Linked DNA regions of Homo sapiens. The protein of the gene in region 2 interacts with the protein of the main gene of each other region in a biochemical or structural test. Each region holds a gene or a part of one and is shown on either strand. Other genes may lie near its edges.

Evidence for each region. The genes of interacting proteins can lie anywhere in the genome.
Region 1: of the proteins of PPM1D (region 2) and CHEK2, one has a biochemical effect on the other in vitro, tested with the Homo sapiens proteins (2 studies listed by BioGRID, with this or other methods).
Region 3: of the proteins of PPM1D (region 2) and H2AX, one has a biochemical effect on the other in vitro, tested with the Homo sapiens proteins (3 studies listed by BioGRID and IntAct).

The regions. Positions count from the first base shown.
Region 1 is NC_000022.11:28,731,821-28,738,820, forward strand, and holds part of CHEK2 (serine/threonine-protein kinase Chk2), read right to left. Parts: exon of another isoform or gene 5,464-7,000; coding exon of another isoform or gene 5,440-5,463; intron 2,908-5,439; coding exon of another isoform or gene 2,902-2,907; coding exon 2,583-2,901; intron 1-2,582. UniProt on the Homo sapiens protein: Serine/threonine-protein kinase which is required for checkpoint-mediated cell cycle arrest, activation of DNA repair and apoptosis in response to the presence of DNA double-strand breaks.
Region 2 is NC_000017.11:60,596,123-60,603,257, reverse strand, and holds the start of PPM1D (protein phosphatase 1D), read right to left. Parts: upstream 3,066-7,135; 5' UTR 2,844-3,065; coding exon 2,372-2,843; intron 1-2,371. UniProt on the Homo sapiens protein: Involved in the negative regulation of p53 expression. Required for the relief of p53-dependent checkpoint mediated cell cycle arrest.
Region 3 is NC_000011.10:119,093,374-119,099,864, forward strand, and holds H2AX (histone H2AX), read right to left. Parts: upstream 2,093-6,491; 5' UTR 2,022-2,092; coding exon 1,590-2,021; 3' UTR 501-1,589; downstream 1-500. Other genes in the region: DPAGT1 (UDP-N-acetylglucosamine--dolichyl-phosphate N-acetylglucosaminephosphotransferase), read right to left, coding at 3,625-3,924, 4,091-4,178, 4,482-4,670, 5,030-5,114. UniProt on the Homo sapiens protein: Variant histone H2A which replaces conventional H2A in a subset of nucleosomes. Nucleosomes wrap and compact DNA into chromatin, limiting DNA accessibility to the cellular machineries which require DNA as a template.

The sequences.
Region 1 (7,000 bases), on a different chromosome or scaffold from region 2:
CCCAGCCTCTTTGTTTTCTTACTTTTAAAGGTGATGTATCCCATTTAGCCCTTTCTCACCATTTCTATTTCTCACTCATCTAAACCTATAGGCCTATCTGAAAAAATATATTGTATTTTATTTATTTGTTTATTTTTTGGAGACGGAATCTCGCTCTGTCACCCAGGCGGGACTGCAGTAGCGCAATCTCAGCTCACTGCAACCTCCACCTCCCAAGTTCCAGCAATTCTCCTGTCTCAGCCTCCTGTGTGGGTGGGATTACAGATGCCTGCCACAACGCCCCGCAAATTTTTTTTTCTTTTTTTTTTGAGATGGAGTTTCGCTCTTGTTGCCCAGGCTGGAGTGCAATGGCGAGATCTCGGTTCACTGCAACCTCTGCCTCCCAGGTTCAACCGATTCTCCTGCCTCAGCCTCCTGAGTAGCTGGGATTACAGGAGCCCGCCACCATGCCCAGCTAATTTTGTATTTTTAGTAGAGACAGGGTTTCTCCATGTTGGTCAGGCTGGTCTCGAACTCCCGATCTCAGGTGATCCGCCCATCTCGGCCTCCCAAAGTGCTGGGATTACAGGCATGAGCCACCACGCCTGGCCTAATTTTTGTATTTTTAACAGAGACAGGGTTTCCCCATGTTGGCCAGGATGGCCTCAAACTCCTGACCTCAGGTGATCCACCTGCCTTGGTCTCTCAACGTGCTGGGATTACAGGCATGAGCCACAATGCCCGGTCTGAAAAATATATTTTAAATCAGTTAAAAATAGCTTCGAGTGTCTACTTATAAATTTAAAGTTGTATATGTGGAATGCAGGTATATTCCTCCATTTTTTATAGTTTTTTCAAGATATCAAAGTTAGACATGAAATAAAACAAGGATGGTGAGTGACAAAACACAAAATGATACATCAGTCCTTCATTTCTTTATATTAACATATTCTATCCTGTTAATGCCAAGTTCAAATTTGTTTATTAAAGAGGTCATTGCAATGTAAGCGAAAGGAAAAAAAACACTATTTTTTTTGGCCGGAGTGCAGTGGTGCAATCCTGGCTCATTGCAACCTCTGCCTCCCAGGTTCAAGCAATTCTCATGTCTCATCCTCCTGAGTAGCTGGGATTGCAGACATGCGCCACCACACCTGGCTAATTTTTGTATTTTCAGGAGAGACAGGGTTTTGCCATGTTGCCCAAGCTGGTTTCGAACTCCTGGCCTCAAGTGATCCTCCCGCTTTGGCCTCCCAAAGTGCTGGGATTACAGGCGTGAGCCACCATGCCTGGCAATGTTAAAATACACACATGTGTATTTTAAACATATGCAGAGCAAAACTTACTATTGGAACCAGGAGGTGTCAGAAAGGGTCAACATGTTTAAATCACAAGGTTGGCTATTTTGAGACAAAAACAAGTAACAAGTAGTCAACAAATGGCCATCTCTATTCTGAACAGCTCTGATTCTCTGAAGCTGTGGCAAACCACAGCAGAGGTTAACTAGTGAAGCTTTTGTGATTAGGGGATAATGTTTGCAAGTTTGAGTGAATCTGCATTTTTCTAGGAAGAGGGTCCAAAGCTACCTTCAGATCTTTGGATGGACAGCACATTGTAAATGTCCAATTATTATTTGTTGAAAGAGTAAATGAACAGAATCCACAGCAGGTAACAGCCAGGGCAACACCCAATACTGCCTCTTTGGTTTTACCTTTTATCACATTCAAACTCCAGAATTATTCTAAGAGTGGCTCAAGCATTCTGCTGCAACTAACTAAGGCAGGAAAATAGGGTCTGAAGGCAGGGAATCTATGGCCAATTCACGCAAACTTCCTGGAATAGATGGGCACGGTTGCTCATGCCTGTAATCCCAACACTTTGGGAGGCCGAAGCAGGAGGATCACTTGAGGCCAGGAGTTCGAGACCAGCCTGGCCAACGTGGTGAAACCCCGTCTCTACTAAAAATACAAAAATTAGCCAGGTGTGGTGGTGTGTGTCTGTAATCCCAGCTACTCAGGAATCTGAGACAGGAGAATCGCTTGAACCCAGGAGTCAGAGGCTGCAGTGAGCCGAGCCGAGATGGCGTCACTGCACTTGTCTGTGCGACAGAGCAAGACTCCGTTGCCAAAAAAAAAAAAAAAAAAATTCCTGAAACTAAACAAAAAAGGAAGAATTTGCACTCTGGCCTATGATCCGTCCATTCTAGGACCTTCATTTGCATAAGGCGTCAATCCACACCAGTCTTGGAATGGCCGAGCTCCAATTCACTTTGGCCTCTAATGGGCTGTGAGCCAGCACTTCATTTACATAGGATGTAAACAGTGGGAGACCTCTAGAGGGTACTTGAACCCCAGAAGACTTTGCTACAAGGGCTCTGCAGCCACTTGCTCAGGCCTGCTCCCATCCTGTGACATGTACTTTAGCTTCTATTGCCTTCCACTTCAATAAATCTATGCTTTCATTGCTTGTTCATGCATGATGTTCAATTATTTGTTCAACGTGCCAAAAACCTGGACAACTCCAATCAGAACCTTCCACCTGGTAATACAACTTTCTGTAAGTGTTTTTCTGAACAAAACGTGATACTATACAACAAAGGGTCTTACCAAGATTGGCAAATCCATCCTGAAGGGCCCATAATCGAGCCCAGGGGGCAGGGGTAGGCTCCTCAGGTTCTTGGTCCTCAGGTTCTTGGTCCTCAGGAATAGAATAGAGTTCCTGAGTGGACACTGTCTCTAAGGAGCTCAGTGTCCCAGAGCTGGAGTGAGAGGACTGGCTGGAGTTTGGCATCGTGCTGGTAGAGGAGCTGGATATGCCCTGGGACTGTGAGGAGGAGCCTTGGGACTGGGTAACGCTGCCATGGGGCTGTGAACAGGCACTGCTGCCATGAGACTGCTGAGCCTCAACATCCGACTCCCGAGACATCACGACCTCAAAAAGAAAGTGTCCAACAACAAAGGTGAGTTTCAAGGCACAAGACTTAAAATTAAAAAGTAAATGATGGGCCTATTACAACAGCAAAAGAAAAGAAAAAAAAAAAAACAGGGCAAACATGCTCTCCAAAAATTAAAAGTCCTAACAGCCCAGACCTATAGTTCTTCTGGGCTGAGCTTTTCACCAGATCATTGTCACCAGATCAGTTTTTTATCTGACAGCCATAAACTACAGGGAAAAACAAATTATCTGAAGGTTACAAATAAGTAAAAAGCAATAAAATTGAGCTGGGGGGCTCATAAAAGCTTACATTTGTCCAATTCTTTTAAATTAAGACTGAAACCAAAAATGTACTGATACAATCAACACTACATTTAAATTTCATATATACAGGGGGCCAGGCGCGGGGGTTCACTCCTGTAGTCCCGCACTTTGGGAGGACAAGACGGGCAGATCATGAGGTCAGGAGTTCAAGACCAGCCTGGCCAACATAGTGAAACTCCGTCTCTACTAAAAATACAAAAAATTAGCCAGGCGTGGTGGCGGGCACCTGTATTCTCAGCTACTCGGGAGGCTGAGGCAGGAGAATCGCTTGAGCCCGGGAGGCAGAGGTTGCAGTGAACCAAGATTGCACCACTGCACTCCAGCCTGGGCAACAGTGCAAGACTCCGTTTCAAAAAAAAAAACTCATATATACAGTCCTCAATTTAACAATGCTTCTATTTAACAATGTTTAGACTTTCTGTGAAAGCAATCAGTAGACACTTACTTCTCCAAGTCCTCACATAACCATTCTGGTTTTCACCTTCAGTACAGTATTCAAGTAATTACATGAGATATTTAACACCTTATTATAAAATAGGCCAGGTGGCCAGGTGCAGTGGCTCACACCTATAATCCCAGAACTCTGGGGGGTCAAGGCAGGTAGATCACCTGAGATCAGGAGTTCAAGACCAGCCTGGCCAACACAGTCAAACCCCGTGTCCACTAAAAATACAAAAATTAGCCGGGTGTGGTGGCAGGCGCCTGTAGTTCCAGCTACTCAGGAGGCTGAAGCAGGAGAATTGCTCGAGCCCAGGAGGCAGAGGTTGCACTGAGCTGAGATCGCGCCACTGCACTCCAGCCTGGGTGACAGGAGTGAAACCCTGTCTCAAAAAAATTAATTAATTAAATAAATAAAATTTTAAAATAAAATAAAATAGGCCAGGTGCAGTGACTCACAACTGTAAACCCAATATTTCGGGTGGTGGAGGTAGGAGGATTGCTTGAGGGCAGGTGTTTGAGACCCCACCTCTACAAAAAATAATAACAATAATCTTTGTGTTAGATAATTTTGCCCAACTGTACCCTGACATAAGTGTTCTGAGCATGTTTAAAGGAGGCTAGGCTAAACTATGACGTTTGGTATCTTAGGTGTATTAAATGTAATTTCAATTTAACAATATTTTCAACTTAGAATGGTTTTATTTAGACATAATGCCATTGAAAGTTGAGGAGCATCTGTGTACTTTGGAAAGCAAAAGAAGACAAAAAATCAGGTGGCTTGATATAAAAGTCAAAAAGAAATTGTACAATAACCTGCTGCATTACTCCAAAGGGTCCATTTACATAAAATGTCACTGGTACCCCTTTTCCCCCAGGCTTGCTCCTAAAGTGAAACACACCTGTTCGTTCAATCTATATTCCCTGACACCTAAGGACCCAGTGACTTAATGAGGCAGAACACAAAGGAAGACAGCTCTTAACAACTCCACCTATCCCTTTGTGATGCTAAATAACCATAGGGCTTATCTTTTCAGCATCCTAAATGGCCTTCCGGCCTTGATGTAATCTTGCAGGAACCATTCTTTTATAAACTGGAGACCGTAACAGAGGCTTCCACCCTTGTCTTAGAATTAACCTGATAGACAGTTAGACTGTCATAACAGGCTGGGTGCAGTGGCTCATACCTGTAATCCCAGCACTTTGGGAGGCCAAGGCAAGAGGACCACTTGAGGCCACGAGTTCAATACCAGCCTGGCCAACATAGTGGGACCCCCCCCGCCCCCCGTACAAAAAATAAGAAAATTAGACATGATGGCATGCAGCTGTGGGCTCAGCTACTCAGGAAGGTGAGGTGGGAGGATCACTTGAGCCCAGGAGTTGAAGGCTGCAGTGAGCTATGATCATACCACTTACATACCAGCCTGGGTGGCAGAGTGAGACCCTATCTCCAAAGAACAGAAAACAAACCAAGACTCTGATAACAGAACCACCAGTAAAATCAAAGTAACATCCACTGCTGACCTAATCGGATTAACAAAAAAAAGGGAGGGAGAGGAGGGCATTCTCTTCCTCCCCAAACTCAGGCTACTACTCTAGGAGAACATAGGAAACAACACTATAGTAGTCCCCACCATCAGAGGGGGATAAGATCCAAGACCCCCCAGTGGATGCCTGAAACCTCGCATAGTACAGAACCCTATATAAATTATGCACAACTTTCTTTTTCCTTCTTCACAATTTCACAAATAGAAGATTAGTTCTTACCATAGACGTTAGCAGCCTCAGCATACAAATTTTTTTATTTCCATATTAAATTGAGATCTTTCACCTTTTCAGTAAAAGGAAACACTTTACAGCTTCTCTTTACAATATCCAAATTGCCAGCATCTTTTGCTTTGGGGCCATTATTAAATATAAGGGTGACATGAACACAAGCACTGCAAAACCATGTAATTTAAGACTTATGAACTGATTATTTCTTTTTTTTTTTTTTTTTGAAACGGAGTCTCAGTCACCCAGGCTGGAGTGCAGTGGCACAATTTTGGCTCATTGCAACCTCCACCTCCTGGGTTCAAGCAATTCTCCTGCTTCAGCCTTCCAAGTAGTTGGGATTACAGGCGCACACCACCATGCCCGGCTAATTTGTATATTTTTTTTAGTAGAGACAGGGTTTTCACCGTATTGGCCAGCCTGGTCTCAAACTGCAGACCTCAGGTGATCCTCAGGTCCACCTCAGCCTCCCAAACTGCTAGGATTACAGGCCTGAGCCACCATGCCCAGCCATGAATTGACTATTTCTTATGAATTTTCCACTTAATAGTTTCAGATCGCAGCTGACCATTGGTAAGTGAAACTACTACCGCTGATAAGGAGGGACTAAGATACCCACACTGATTGTATTTACACAGCTTTCAAGATACAAAGGTTCTGCCAGGTGTGGTGGTTCATGTCTGTAATCCCAGCACTTTGGGAGGCCAACGCAGGTAGATTGCTTGAGCCCAGGAATTCAAGACCAGCCTGGGCACCATGGTGAAATCCAGTATCTACAGAAAATACAAAAAATTAGCAGGGCATGGTGGTGTGCACCTGTAGTCCCAGCTACTTGGGAAGCTGAGGTGGGAGGATCACTTGAGTCCAGGAGGTTGAGGCTGCAGTGAGCCGTGATCGAGCCTGCACTCCAGCCTGGGTGACAGAGCGAGACCCTGTCTCAAGGAAAATAAAAAAGATACAAAGGTTCTGATGAGTTTTCTTTAAAACATACCAGGAAGGCAATGCCAAAACTGAGTATGCCACACCAGGGACTGCTGGTCTAATACTACCTGAGCCAGGCTGAGTCTTCCCCACAGCTTTTTAAGCAAGACAGGACAACTGGAGAAAATGTGTCAACAAGTTACTATGAGAGATTAGAGGCAAGCGGATCTGGAGTCAGACACTTGAGTGAAACTGTGCATGACTTTAGGTAGATCACAACTTCTCTAAACCTGTTTTCTCATCTGAAAATAAGTAGACAGACCATGAGGATTAAGTGAAGTGACGCATGTAATACTCCCCCCACCCACCCATGCTTGCTATCTGGGAGCTATTGCTATTGGAAAGCCATGCAGAGAAGTGAGTGAAAAACCAAAGTGAGGGCAGCAAAACTCCAGGACTGTAGACAGAAATCCAGTCCCAAAACCTATAAAACTACTAGAAGAAAACACTGGGGAAGTGCTCCAGGACACTCATCTTGGGCACAGGTTTTTTGGGCACAGGGTTTTTACGTAAGACCTCAAAAGCACAGGCAACTAAAGCAAAAACAGACAACTGGGATTTCATCAAGCTAAAA
Region 2 (7,135 bases):
TCAATAAGCATATAAAGGGTTCTGAGAGCAAAAAGTTTGAGAACTATTACTACAATCCAATGAGCACTACAAAAGTAGAAAAAAGGGTGCTCAATTCCAAAAGAAAGTAGTCTTCACAGAAGAAAACATACTGACTGGGAATCTACATGATGGATATATTTTTGTTTGAGTTTTCCTTGTTGGGGGGGCAGGGTGAGAGAGGCAGAATCCAAGAAAATGGAAATGGAGTATTTCCATGTGTCCTGAAAAAAGGTGAGTAGAGACTAATGTAATGGAAATTCGTGTAACAAATATAATTTACTGGAGAGGCTGAATATGTACAGGAAAGGGGTTGGCCTGCAGATTGCAAACTACAGTTTACTTTACAGAAAATGTGGAGCCATCCAAGAATTTGTGATTGAAAAAAAAATTTAAACCTTCGTTTCCTTTGTCAAGACTCCCAAAATAATTAGCATACTTTTTTTTTTTTTTTTTTTTTCAAGCTTTGAGGACGAAGTCTGAGGTCTAGCTGTGGTACAAAACAAACTTTAACATTTTTCTGGAGTATAAGGCTCTAAACTTTATGCATCATAAGAGTGACAGCTTAATTCGAAAAGTCTGTGTATGTAAAACTAAACCATACATATTTACATTTAACAGCATGGCCCCTGCTTTATTAAAAAATGTTCCTGAAGGTCCGGCAGGGTAGCTCACGCCTGTAATTCCAGCACTTTCGGAGGCCGAGGAGGAAGGATCGCTTGAGCCCAGGATCGCTTGTTGCCCAGCCTGGGCAACAAAGTAAGGCGGCCCACACCCGTCCCCCGCCCCTGCCCGTCTCTTAAAAAAAAAAAAATTTAATACTAATGTAACGGAGTTTATACCTTAAAGATTTTTTATCCTTAAAGTTCAAACATATGGCAAATTCATGTTACTCCAAGTATACTGCAAAATAAACAGCACTCTAAATAGTTCTGTGCCTAGTCTTCCTCTCTTGTGCTGCTGTCGACTTCTCGTTGCCCTGCAGTCAATGATATCACATATTTCTACAATACACTACAGTGCTTTCAGCTCTACGGTGCCTACACAAAAACAAAATAAATCCATAAAGAGGGGCCCCTGGGATGGATGGGAAACGCCTCCAACAAGCCTAGTGGCTGGTTTTTGAGTCAATCAACTAACTCTTGGCAGAAAGCCAAGCAAATGGAAAACAGACTTTGAAACCGGCTAATCTACAACTCTATGACAATACCTTTCTAAAAATGTTCTGTATTTGCTAAATCTAACTCTTTTCTCTATGTCTCTATCCCTCTGCTGAAAATAAAGCAACGTTATTATGCTGCCATAAACAAGGTTTTTTCCCACCACTGGAAGTATTGTCTTCTTTGCTCTAACAAAGATGCATGCCATTTATTCACTGCAATAGATAAGCAATTATAATGCTGTAAGATGATTCTGTAAATGTTGGGCACAGAAATCCTGCCTGCTTTACAAACATTTAAAAAAACTTAGATGAAACTACAACTACACCGAAATTTTTAGACATTTAAGACCTTTATTTCCTTCTAGCATACAGTAATTCCTTGCCTTTTCTTATTTTGATGGGCAGTTACAATTTATAAGTACTTTTTAAACTAGGAACAACCGGTTGGGAACTATCTGAAAGCAATCAGCTAAGGCAATTTCCAAAAAGAAAACCCAAGCAGAATCTAACGCACACCCTTAACACGGGGCCAGTTTTTAAGAGGTAACAACACGTTCCGCGTTTTTAGTTTTCATAAGCAGTACAGGTTTATGATCCTAAAAACATCTCACCATCATTACAACGGAATTCCTTCCAAAACTTTAAGTTGCCGGATGGTTACGTTTCAGCCCTTCTAAATTAGCTTACGCTTTACTCCAGCAACCAACCCCAGCAATCCCGGGTCAATCTGGAGAACTGACACCACCGGTAGGAGGCAACCGAGAGGGATAAGACTTTCAGGAGCAGAATTATGACAGATTCTCTAAGGAAACACTACAGTTTTTCCTTCGCCTGGCCCAGGTGCAACATCGATTTATCTTTTGGCCAAAATCTGGCGCCAGGTTTCAAACACGTTTCCTCTGGTTGCCACCAAAGTGAAGCAGGGAAGGGAGTGGACTGCTTCCCATTGATCCTTGGAGGATGGAAATAAAGCAAGAATAGGCTGCAGGGAGACGGCAATCCTATCTTCCCCAAGGCCGCTTGGTTTGCCCGGACCTCCACCCAGCAAAGCGCTATTACAGCTTTTAGTCACTTCCATCAGTGTATACTTTGGTTGCGCTCTGGGTGCCGGGGGCCCACGCGGGGCTGGTGCCATAAAAGCCCTGAACTGCCTGAAAAAGGGGCGGGCGCCAAACAAGCCAGGGAACTTACCCAGTTTCTTCCACATGGCAAGGTGACAAGCGAGAAAGCCTTTGCGGATGGCAGCGCAAACCTTAGCCGGCTCGGACGAGGTGAAACCCTTCTGCTTCTTGATGAAACCCCACAAGTGCTCCCGGGCAAACTGTGCCGCCTCCCGCCCGCCGTGCCCGTCGCACACGGCGAAAAAGGCCACGGAGGAACGGCGGCGGCAGCAGCGGCTAGGTGCCGGCGAGGCCCCGGCGTCCGGGAGAGGGTCGCGAGCCTCTCGGGCTGCCACCGCTGGGCCTTTCCCCGAGACTTCGCCGCCGGGAAGGGCGGCCGGCGACGGCCGCGGAGGCAACGGCTGAGACAGCGACCGCCGCGGCGAGGGCTTTTCTTCAGCCGTCGGTTCGGGCTCCACAACGATTTGAGTAACGTCCTCCATGTACTTCCTCCCGCCCTGGTCGGAGAAGACGCTCACTCCCAGCGAGTACAGCCCCGCCATGGCCGGCTGGCCGGGATCCCGCCGGTCCCACGCAGCCCGCCGAATCCGGCGGCGGGAGACACACTAGGCGCTCGCCGGCCAACTATTGTTTATCTTCGACGACGCCGAGAAGGGGGAGGGGGCGGACCCGGAGAAGGGGGGGCGCGCGATGTCTGGACTTGTCCGCGAGAGCTGGGCCGGAGCGCCGGAGCGAGCAGAGCCAGGCAGTTGCGCCTGCGCACTGCGCTTCCCCCCACCGCCCGCGCCCACCACACAAATCAGGCGTTCTCCCCCGCTGACGTCACTCGGCTCTCTAAGCTCGACCAATCCGGAGTCGAGTGGAGCGAGCCCGCCCTCCGTCCCCGCCTTCGCTCCCGCCTGCGACGGCCGCGCTGCCTCCTCCCGCCGCTGGCGCTGGGCCCGCGCATCTCCTAGTTTGCTTCCCCTACGCCGCGGGCGTTTTCGCCCTCCGGGTTGTCGGCAGTTGTTGATCCTTTCCCGAGCGGCTTGGTCTGTGTAGGCTTTTGGCTCAGTCCAGCGTTCTTAATGCGGCCTGCTGGCCTTGGCGTCCCGCTGCTTGCTTTGCTAGGAAGGTGGTGTGGGCTCGGGCCCCCAGCGAGTGGAGAATGAAGGGAGAAGAGTTCACCCTCCTCCTAAGCGAAATGGCGGGAAACCTCCCTTCCAAAGGGCGATTGTGAGCTGGCCGGAACAAGTGCTGCACCCTTGAGCTGGATCTGGGTGGGACGTATTCGACTGGGAATGGAGGAGGGAGGGAGTCCAGTTCTGTTGTTTAAAAAGCACTTAGGAAATTTCCACCGTCAGCTGCACAGTCTCGGTTCACATAACTAGGTATGTCAGAGACGTAAGAGGGCTGTATTCTAACGAATTCCTAGGCAGATCTTTTCAGCTTTTGTTAAAGGTAGTGCTCGTTCCGACCAGCTCTGGATACAGCATTTTATTCCTGCGGTATCACTTCAAGTTATCACTTGAAAATAACTGACAAACACTGCCAAGAGCCCCAGTGCTCTAACGGTTTGGTGATCGTCCCCTCTCTTCACCGAGTCGGTCACAATCCCAACGCTAAAACCTTTGCACGGATTTTCATGGAGTTAAGCCGCAGAGCGAGGAATACACTAGTATTTGCTCAGTAGCATACGTTTTGTAGTTGAATCACTTTAAAGTTCACTTTTCCCGTTTTTGGCCATTTCTTCATCAATCTGTACTTTCCTGTAAAACCTTTGAGATTTTCAAATGGCCTAAAAACAGTATGGAAACGGGAATGGGGGGAATGTACATACAGTTGGCACAAGAAATAAAAATAGAAAAAATCTTTATATCAATAAAAATATAAATAAGCAAAATCAGCTCAAGAAAATGTAGAAAATCTGAATAGATCAACTAAGTAAAAATAAATACAATTGAAGATATTCATTACCCCAAAAAGCACTAGACCAGATGGTTCCAGGGCATGGAAACGCTTGAAAAAAAAAATCCCAGCTTGTTTGGAGAGGTAATCATAACCCTGTTAGTAAAACCTAAGCATTATGAACACTAAAAGGAAACCTACAGACCCTGTTTTGTAACGATGAATACAAAAATCCTAAATGAAATATTAGCATTGTAATTAGGGAGCAGCCTCCATATCACAAGAACGGTTTGTGTAGCTCTATATTATTCATCTTACCGTTCACCACGTTTGACCCAAGAGATTACCAAAAGATAATTCCATCATGCTTTATAATCCTTTCCACCTCAATCACAACCAGTAGGATCTGCGTCATCCGTTTATTGCTCTAGTATCTCCATGCTACTCTCTGCTTCAATTACTCTGATTCCATATCCCACTCTTCACCAAATATCCTAACCATTTCACTTCACACTTTTGATTTCAACATCTGCCATCAACCACTTCCCCTTTATTCTTAGCCTCTTCTGTAAATGTTCCCATCAACTTCCCATTCCAACTGAAACCCGGTTTATCACTTAGCAAAACTACCTCCCTTGCAACTTTTCAAGTACAGGAGGTTATTTTTCCTCTCATAGGTATTCTTATCTGTGGCCTATTCCTCATATTACCTCCAAACCACTTCTCTTCCTTCCTCCCTCAGAAACTCAAGTGCTTTTAAAATTTATGCAGACTGCTGCTACTCTGAGATGCTGTCAGCTACTGATCCCTGGTATCTCCCCATCATTTTTCATAGCCCACCGTCTTTGTTTCTTCCACTATTCGTGTCACTTCTCATCCACTTTATTTTTCAAGATACTATCCATATCTTCCATACTGTCTCCTTTTCAAGAGTTTTACTGCTCCAACAATTATCCTCCTTGCTCCTGCCTCATCAATCTCTCCTTTCTCTCTGTCTTTCTAAATGTTAAAGACGGGGTCTATGATGCCCAGGCTGGGGTGCAGTGATTATTCACAGGCGCAATTATAGCTCACTGCAGCCTCAAACTCCTGACCTCAAGTGATCCTCCAACTTTAGCCCCCAAGTAGCTGAGATTAAGGCACATGTCACCACACCCAGACTAATTTCTCCTCTTCTGGGTCATTTCCATTTGTGTATAAATATGTTCTGTTTTTTTTCTTTTTTTTGAGACAGAGTCTCCCTCCATCACCCAGGCTGGAGTGCAGTGACGTGATCTCGGCTCACTAGCAACCTCTGCCTCCTGGGATCAAGGAATTCTCGTGCCTCGGCCTCCCTAGTAGCTGGGACTACAGGTGTGAGCCACCATATCTGGCCACTATTACCTCTTACCTGGACCACTACACTCGCCTCCTCACAAATCTTTCTTTCACTCTTGGCCCTCTGCTATCCTTTTTCCGCTAGGTACTATAGCGATCTTTCAAAAACCATGAATCAGATCAAGTCATTCTTTTACTCAATACATGGCTTCCATCACATTTAATATAATGTAGGCCAGGCACAGTGGCTCACACCTGTTATTCCAGCACTTTGGGAGGCCAACGCGGGCAGATCACTTAAGGCCAGGAGTGGAGACCAGCCTGGCCAACATGGCAAAACACTGTCACTTCTAAAAATACAAAAATTAGCCAGTCATGGTGGCGTGCACTTGTAGTTCCAGCTACTAGGGGGAGAGGCTGAGGCAGGAGAATCACCTGAACCTGGGAGGCAGAGGCTGCAGTGAGCTCAGATCACACCACTACCTTGAAGCCTGGGCAACAGAGACTTTGTCTCAAAAAAATAAAATAATATGCAAACTCCTTATGAAGGCCTGAATCATCTGTTTGGCCCCTAAATGTTTGTCTAACATCTTTTCATAACACTTTCCCCTTCACCACTCACCGCTAGCTTCACTGGCCTTTTTTCTGTTCCTTGAACAGAAAATATCAAACTATTAGGAGACTTAGTGATTTTTTTTTTTCATTAGCGGTTCCCTCTCCTTGAAATGCCATCCCCACTCCCAGCAGCTTTACAAAGCTGGATTCTTCTTGCTACTCAGATCTCAGTTGAAATATTAAGGGACTTTCTTAACCACCCAATCTAACGTAGCCACCCAATATCTCTCTATCACATAACCCTATTTTAATTATCTGCAGAGGACTACTCACTAGCTGATCTTTTTTGTTTATTTGTCCCAATTAGAATATAGGCTCCATGAGAACAGGGAACTTGCCTTGTTCATTGCTGTACACTCTGAGCCTCGGACAAAGAGTTGTTGAGTGAGTTGATTAATTAATTTACTCAGCACGAAATGTATAAAATTAATATGAGGAAAACCAGGAAACGTTGCTAAAGAAAAAATAAGTCCTAAATAAATGTAAAAACATACCATGTTTCTAGATGAGAAAACAACTCAATTGGTCTCAAATTAATCTACAAATATAACTTTAATCAAAATTCCAACTGGATTCTTTTTTTTTTACTTGACAAGTTGATTCCAACATTTATCTGGAAGAGAAAATGGATAAGAATAGCCAAGATGTTGAAAAAGAAGGTGATTAGTTGTCCTACAGATATTAGAATATTTTTTATGTTTTAATTTTTATTTATTTATTATTATTATTTTTTTTTTTTTGAGACAGACTGTCACTCTGTCGCCCAGGCTGGAGTGCAGTGGTGTGATTTCAGCTCACTGCAAGCTCTGCCTCCCGGGTTCAAGCAGTTCTAATGCCTCAGCCTGCCGAGTAGCTGGGATTACAGGCACACACCACTATGCCAGGCTAGTTTTTGTATTTTTAGTAGAGACGGGGTTTCACCATGTTAGCCAGGATGATCTCGATCTCCTGACCTCGTGATCCGCCCGCCTCTGCCTCCCAAAGTGCTGGGATTACAGGCGTGAGCCACCGCGCC
Region 3 (6,491 bases), on a different chromosome or scaffold from region 2:
TGATTACCCCGGGAGACTGAACTGCAGGGTTCAAGCCTTCCAGGGATTTGCCTCACCTTGGGGCCTTGATGACTGCCTTGCCTCCTCAGTATGTGGGGGCTTCATCTCTTTAGAGAAGTCCAAGCAACAGCCTTTGAATGTAACCAATCCTACTAATAAACCAGTTCTGAAGGTGTTGTGTGTGCGCGTGTGGAGTTGGCGGGAAGATAGGAACAAACACAAAGCCCTTTCATCCTTACCTCAGAGGCTGGGACTTTTGCCCAGAGTTCTCCTGGTACGTCCTTTCTGCTTCTGCCTCAATAGTTTTCATTTCACACAGAATAAATTGTCTCCCAGGAACACCAAGAAACAGAGCCACAATCTTAAATTCCTATGGTTTGCCCCTTCAGTTAACAGTAGAGCCTGTTTATATTGCATGGCCCCTCCCACCCCTATTATCAGGAAAGTATAGAAAGTCACTAATTCTACAACTCTCTTGCAAAATGAAAACAAACGCTCCATTTAAAAAAAAAACAATCCTTTAATAAAATTAGTCCATCTAAAACTCCCCAATGCCTAAGGTTCTAGTCGTGGAAGGGTTAGCTGCAGAATTCCAGTTCAGAAGCCAACGGAGGCTCAGTCCAGACAGGGATTAACCGACTTGTGCTGGTATCTAGGTGCTTGGATTGCCGAGTTGAGTTTGCTGGAAGGGAAATGGGGCGGCGTCGGGGGGCCCGACAGGCCTGGCTGCCAGTCGGCTTCCGCGAAAACGACTCTTGCTGTCCACATAGCCAGCCGTGAAGCCAAACTGCAGGCCTCTGCCCTCCCCTAAATGTCCTCCTAGGAGGCAGTCACTCGGGAGGAAGATGTGCCTGTTACCAAGTGCTTCGTCCCGGCCCCAGCGCAGACCTATGAATGAAGATGGAGGGAGAGCTGATGTGAAAGGCCTGGGTCCCGGCCGCAGAAGGGGCGCCAGACCGAAATCGGCGATCGCGTCTCTCCCACCAAAGCCTCCCGGCCAGCGGCCGCGTCTGAAAGTCCTGGGCTAAGCACCACGCCGGGGGGGTACCAGACACCCCGGCTGCAGCTGCCGAGGGCCTCACTCACCTTCAGGGCCGCCGGCCTCTCGGCCTGGACTGCCCACCTCGGCCCTGCGTCAGAGCGGAAGGCCAAGTCTTCCAGAAGGTGCTGCGGCCTCCCCGCAGCCCCTTAGCGACTCGGGATGGGGCGGCTGAGTCACGAACGCCGAGGCGGGCAGGTGCGGCGCCGCCGGCCTCCCCCCGGCAGGCTCGGGTCTTCCGCGCCACGGAGGTCCCCGAAGAGCGCCCAAGCCGCATCCGGAAGGCCCGAACCCTACCGGAGGGCGGACGGCGGACAGGGCAGGGCCCGAGGCCGACGCGGCAGGCGGTGCGGGACGGGAGCGGGGGCGGGCGGGGACTCGAGGCCGGGCGGCGAAGGCGGGCGAGGGGAGGGGAGGGGAAGGGAGCCGCGGCCCGCTTGCCCCGCAGTCTGAAGCGGCTCAGCTCTTTCCATGAGGGCGGTGGTGGCCCTTAAAAGGGCCTTTGTGGTGGCATGGGGAGGCCTGGCGGCCGGCCGCGGCGCGGGCCCTCTTAGTACTCCTGGGAGGCCTGGGTGGCCTTCTTGCCGCCCGAGGGCGCCTTCGGCCCCACGGTGGCGCTGGTCTTCTTGGGCAGCAGCACGGCCTGGATGTTGGGCAGGACGCCTCCCTGGGCGATCGTCACGCCGCCCAGCAGCTTGTTGAGCTCCTCGTCGTTGCGGATGGCCAGCTGCAGGTGGCGGGGGATGATTCGCGTCTTCTTGTTGTCGCGGGCCGCATTGCCCGCCAGCTCCAGGATCTCAGCGGTGAGGTACTCCAGCACTGCCGCCAGGTACACTGGCGCGCCGGCGCCAACGCGCTCGGCGTAGTGGCCCTTCCGCAGCAGCCGGTGTACACGGCCCACTGGGAACTGGAGGCCGGCGCGCGACGAGCGCGACTTGGCCTTGGCGCGGGCCTTGCCGCCAGTCTTGCCGCGGCCCGACATGCTAGCGAGGTAGACCGGTGAAGCACGACGGCTCAAACACTAGAACAGACGCCCGCCGCAGTGTAACTGCTGTCGCGCGCGCGCCGCGAGGCCGCCTTTATAAGCCCCCAGGACACACCTCTGCGCCCTCCTGATTGGCTCTTTTCTCCAATACCCGCCTCCGGTTGGTTGCGGTTAACCCTTGGGTGTCGCGGCTCGGCTGAGGGAGCGCGCCCGCTGATTGGTCGAATTTGAAAACCTTTTGCCCGGGGAGAAAAGGCGAGGAGGAGGGGTAGCACGCAGACTGCCAACTATCCGCTGATGTAGCCAATCCTTGTAAAGCGCGCGAGATTTAAACACTACAATCGGAAACCAGAAGCGGAAGACCAAAGGGGTGGAGTCTGAGGCCACCTAGAGAGCGTCTGGGAAATCTGTGCCGGCGTAGGATTTTTAAAGGAAAGGGGTCAATATTATAGCTACTGCAGCCCTCCTTTCCAGGTCCAGTCACTCCCTACTCCCTTCTCCTACCTGACAAAGGGAGAATGGAAAAGTGAAGAAATTAGACCCCTTAAAAGTTTTCTTTTTTTTCTTTCTTTCTTTTTTTAATAGACCGGGTGTCACTGGCTCTGTCACCCAGGCTGGAGTGCAGTAGTGTGATCTCAGCTCACTGCAGCCTCGAACTCCTGGGTTCAAGGAATCCTCCCTGCTAAACCTCCCTCGTAGCTGGTACTACAAGTGCTCCACCACACTTGGCTAATTATTTTATTTTTGTAGAGACGGAGTCTCGTTTTGTTGCCCAGGCTGTCTTGAATTCCTGGGCTCAGGCAATCCTCCTGCCTCAGCCTCCTAAAGTGCTGGGATTACAGGCATGAGCCACTGCACCCGGTGACTCTTTGAAAGTTTGTTCCCATGCCAGGAAACAGGATAACTTCAATTTTGTGGCCCTCCATGCCACCTCTAGTATCAGGATTTAAATATTTATTCAATATGTTCTGTTTGGTCTCAGTTCTGTTCACTTCTTGTTAGACGGGGTCTGATGGGGCAGAGAGATAGGCATCCTGTTGGAGGAAGTACCCCCACCACCCCTCCCAATCTACCCAAAAATGCCCATATAGGAAATATACCTACATAAACAATAAGAAAAAGACAACACTTTATTGTCTCCATTGAGAGCATGTGGCCCCCTGCTTAGTTCTTACTAATCAGAACACTTAATTTACAATCAAATGACATGTCACCGTGGAGCCTGTGTTCCTAGCCCTGGCCCAAGTTCTATCCCAAAAACCAGTGGTTCCTTGAGAGTCAGGACTCTGAAATGTGAGTGTGGATAACTGCAAAAAAAGCTGCTGTATCCCACCCTATGAGGCTGCAAAGATGGGATGGAGAGGGAGAGAGTAGCAAGTTGCAGAAAGCCATAGGTAAAATCCAATCAGTAGTCAGCAGAGGGCAAGAAACGCCCAGGATGCCAATGATCACAGAGAAAGGAAAATGCTGAGAACAAAATCTGGAGGAGTATGAAGAGTGAGAGAGGCCTGGGCAAGGAGGCAGTCTGGGACCAGAGAGAGAGGTCAGCCTGAGTCAGGAATCCTAGAGACTGTGAGGTAAAGGACAATGATCAAGGGACTCAGACATCATAGAAGAGTCGAACGAGCTGATATCGAATGGAGAAGGTGATGGCACTGCCCAGGATCTGCAAGGAGAAATGGACTGGAGTAAGAATCACGCAGAAAGGGAGACACGGAGGTATAAACTCGATTCCCATCCTCACCTGCAGCAGCAGCAGGAGCAATGTGAGGTTTCTCTCATGTATGGGCCCAAGGACTTTAAGTAGCAAGTTGATGAGGGTCATGTTGTTACATTCAGTGAATTCACCATCTTCAGTCTCACTCTGGTGTACTGTCACCAGCTGGAGGCTCTCTGCCACCTGGAGGGACCAGAGGTGAAGAGAACCTCAGCTAATACCTATGCTTTAGGAATGTGGATCTATTTAATGCTTTCAAGTTCCCCTTGGATCTGATGTAGGACTAGGTTCCCCATTCCTCAAGGTCAGGATGGCAGCCTAGGGCCTTACCTCCTTGTTACCCTGTTACCTTTAAAATAAAGGTGCCCAAGAAAGAGAGGCTCTTGGTCTTGAACTTGGAATAGCTCATCTCCAGTTTGCCTGTCTTGATATTGAGTCTGCGGGGGGAAGATAGCTTCATGTGACTGGGCCACTATTTGAACCCTCCTCCCTGTGGCTAATAGGAAGAGCATTGAATGTGGAGTCAACCTGAGATCTATTTCTGGCTCTGCTGCTTACTGTTATCAGAACCACTGTAGCAGATTATGCAAATAAATGTGCTTTGTAAGTTATAAAGGGCTACTCACATGGAAATAGCCCTTCTTTGGGCCCACTCCCTTTGCACAGCAAATGTATAGGCTGGCATTAGATATCCCAAGTGAAAAGGCTATGATGTCCATTTCAAGCCAAAAAGCGGCTACCTGGGTATGCGGTGGCGAGGGCAGGGGATGATATGCAGGAGCTGAGGCAGTGAGTAGAGGAAGTTGAACACCTGGGGCATGAAGAATAGTAGCATGGTCTTGCTGAAGTGTCCCAAGATGCCCACCACGGCAAAGGTCATGCCAGCAAAGTAACAGAAGGTATCTCCCACAAACACCCGTGATGGGTACCTGTGTGGGGGAAGAGGATCCGAGCCAGTGGCAAGAGGCATTACCAATCCCTTCTCTCACATCACACCCTATGGGCACTGGACTAGCCCTGACCCTAGTTCTGACTCAGAGGAGACTCCAGTTGTGCAGCAACTCTGCAGGATCCAAGGCCCTGAATTCATCTATTCCTGGGGCCTCCACGCACTCATCCCTAACTACTACTGGGTAGAGAGAAATTTCAGAATACGACCAACTGAAGACGCAGAAAACTCCATAGAGGTATGCGCAGGTTTAGCTTCACCACCACAAGGTGGGTTATGATAAGGGCCATCTTTGCCATGTGTTCAGGTAGTTGTCCCCTTATCCACAGGCCTACTTACCAGTTGTGGTAGAGCAATCCCAAAGTGGTGAAAAAAAAGGGTATCATGAAGTAGAGGGAAAAGACATGATCATCCCGACAATCACCTTTGGAAGCAAGGAAGAAAGAAGGAAAAGTTAATACCCACTTCCTCTGCAAACCTTGGTCCTATTTTTGTCTAAGTTCTGTTTACAGCTGTTATCATCCACCTCACCCAAGTCACTTTTAAGAACTCAATACTCCTTTTATGTCACCCAAGGCAATTCCCAATATTCCACCTCTTTCGTGCAGCCTTCCAAACTAGTTACTATCTTAAATTTGGTTTAGCCCATTCTGATGTAAGTTTGGATACCAACTTTACTTCTTAGCTTTGTGACCTTGATCTTGATCATGACACATTTAACTTCTCTAAGCCTGTTTTCTCATCTGTAAAACAGGGCTGATTATAACATCTGCCACATAAAACCATTACAAGATTTAAATAAGATAGTGTTTAAAAAGTACTTAGCTTTAATAAACACTTGTTGATGTTCATCAGCCAAAGACCATCAGAAACACATCTATAGTTCAAAGCTAGGTTTAATGACTTGTTGTAAAAAGGGAGACTTCAGAAACCACACACCATTGGGAACCACGGAATGTCTCAGTAAGAGGGTGTTAGGAGGGGCTTGTAGTAGCGTTTGTTTTGGGTATTTTGGGAGAGGGTGAAAGAAAGTAGTTTTGCTCTGGACTGGGTGCTGTTAGAAAGCAGGAGTAATTCATGGCCGGGTGCGGTGACTCACGCCTGTAATCCCAGCACTTTGGGAGGCTGAAGCAGGCAGATCACCTGAGGTCAGGAGTTCGAGACCAGCCTGACCAACATGGAGAAACCCCGTCTCTACTAGAAATACAAAATTAGCTGGGCGTGGTGGCACATGCCTGTAATCCCAGCTACTAGGGAGGCTGAGGCAGGAGAATCGCTTGAACCTGGGAGGCGGAGGTTGCGGTGAGCCGAGATCGCACCATTGTACTCCAGCCTGGGCAAGAACAAAACTCCGTCTCAAAAAAAAAAAAAAAAAAAGAAAAGAAAAGAAAGCAAGAGTAATTCTATGATCAAGCATTTTAATGTTTATTTAAGAAATGGTAGGAACTGGCTGGGCACAGTGGCTCAAGAGTGTAATCCCAGCACTTTGGGAGGCCTGGCAGATCACTTGAGCCCAGGAGTTCAAGACCAGCCTAGGCAACATGGTGAAACCCTGTCTCTACAAAAAATACAAAAATTTGCCAGGTGTGGTGGCACATGCCTGTAGCCCCAGCTACTTGGGAGGCTGGGGCAGGAGGATCGTTTGAGTCAGAGGATGCAGTGAGCTAAGATCGCGCCACTGCTCTCCAGCCTGCATGACAGAGGGAGACCCTGTCTCAAAAAAAAAAAAAAAAAAAAAAAAAAGAAGTGGTAGGAACTGAGTTGTTATTGGAGAGCAGCAGCAGTCGCTCATGTTAGCCGA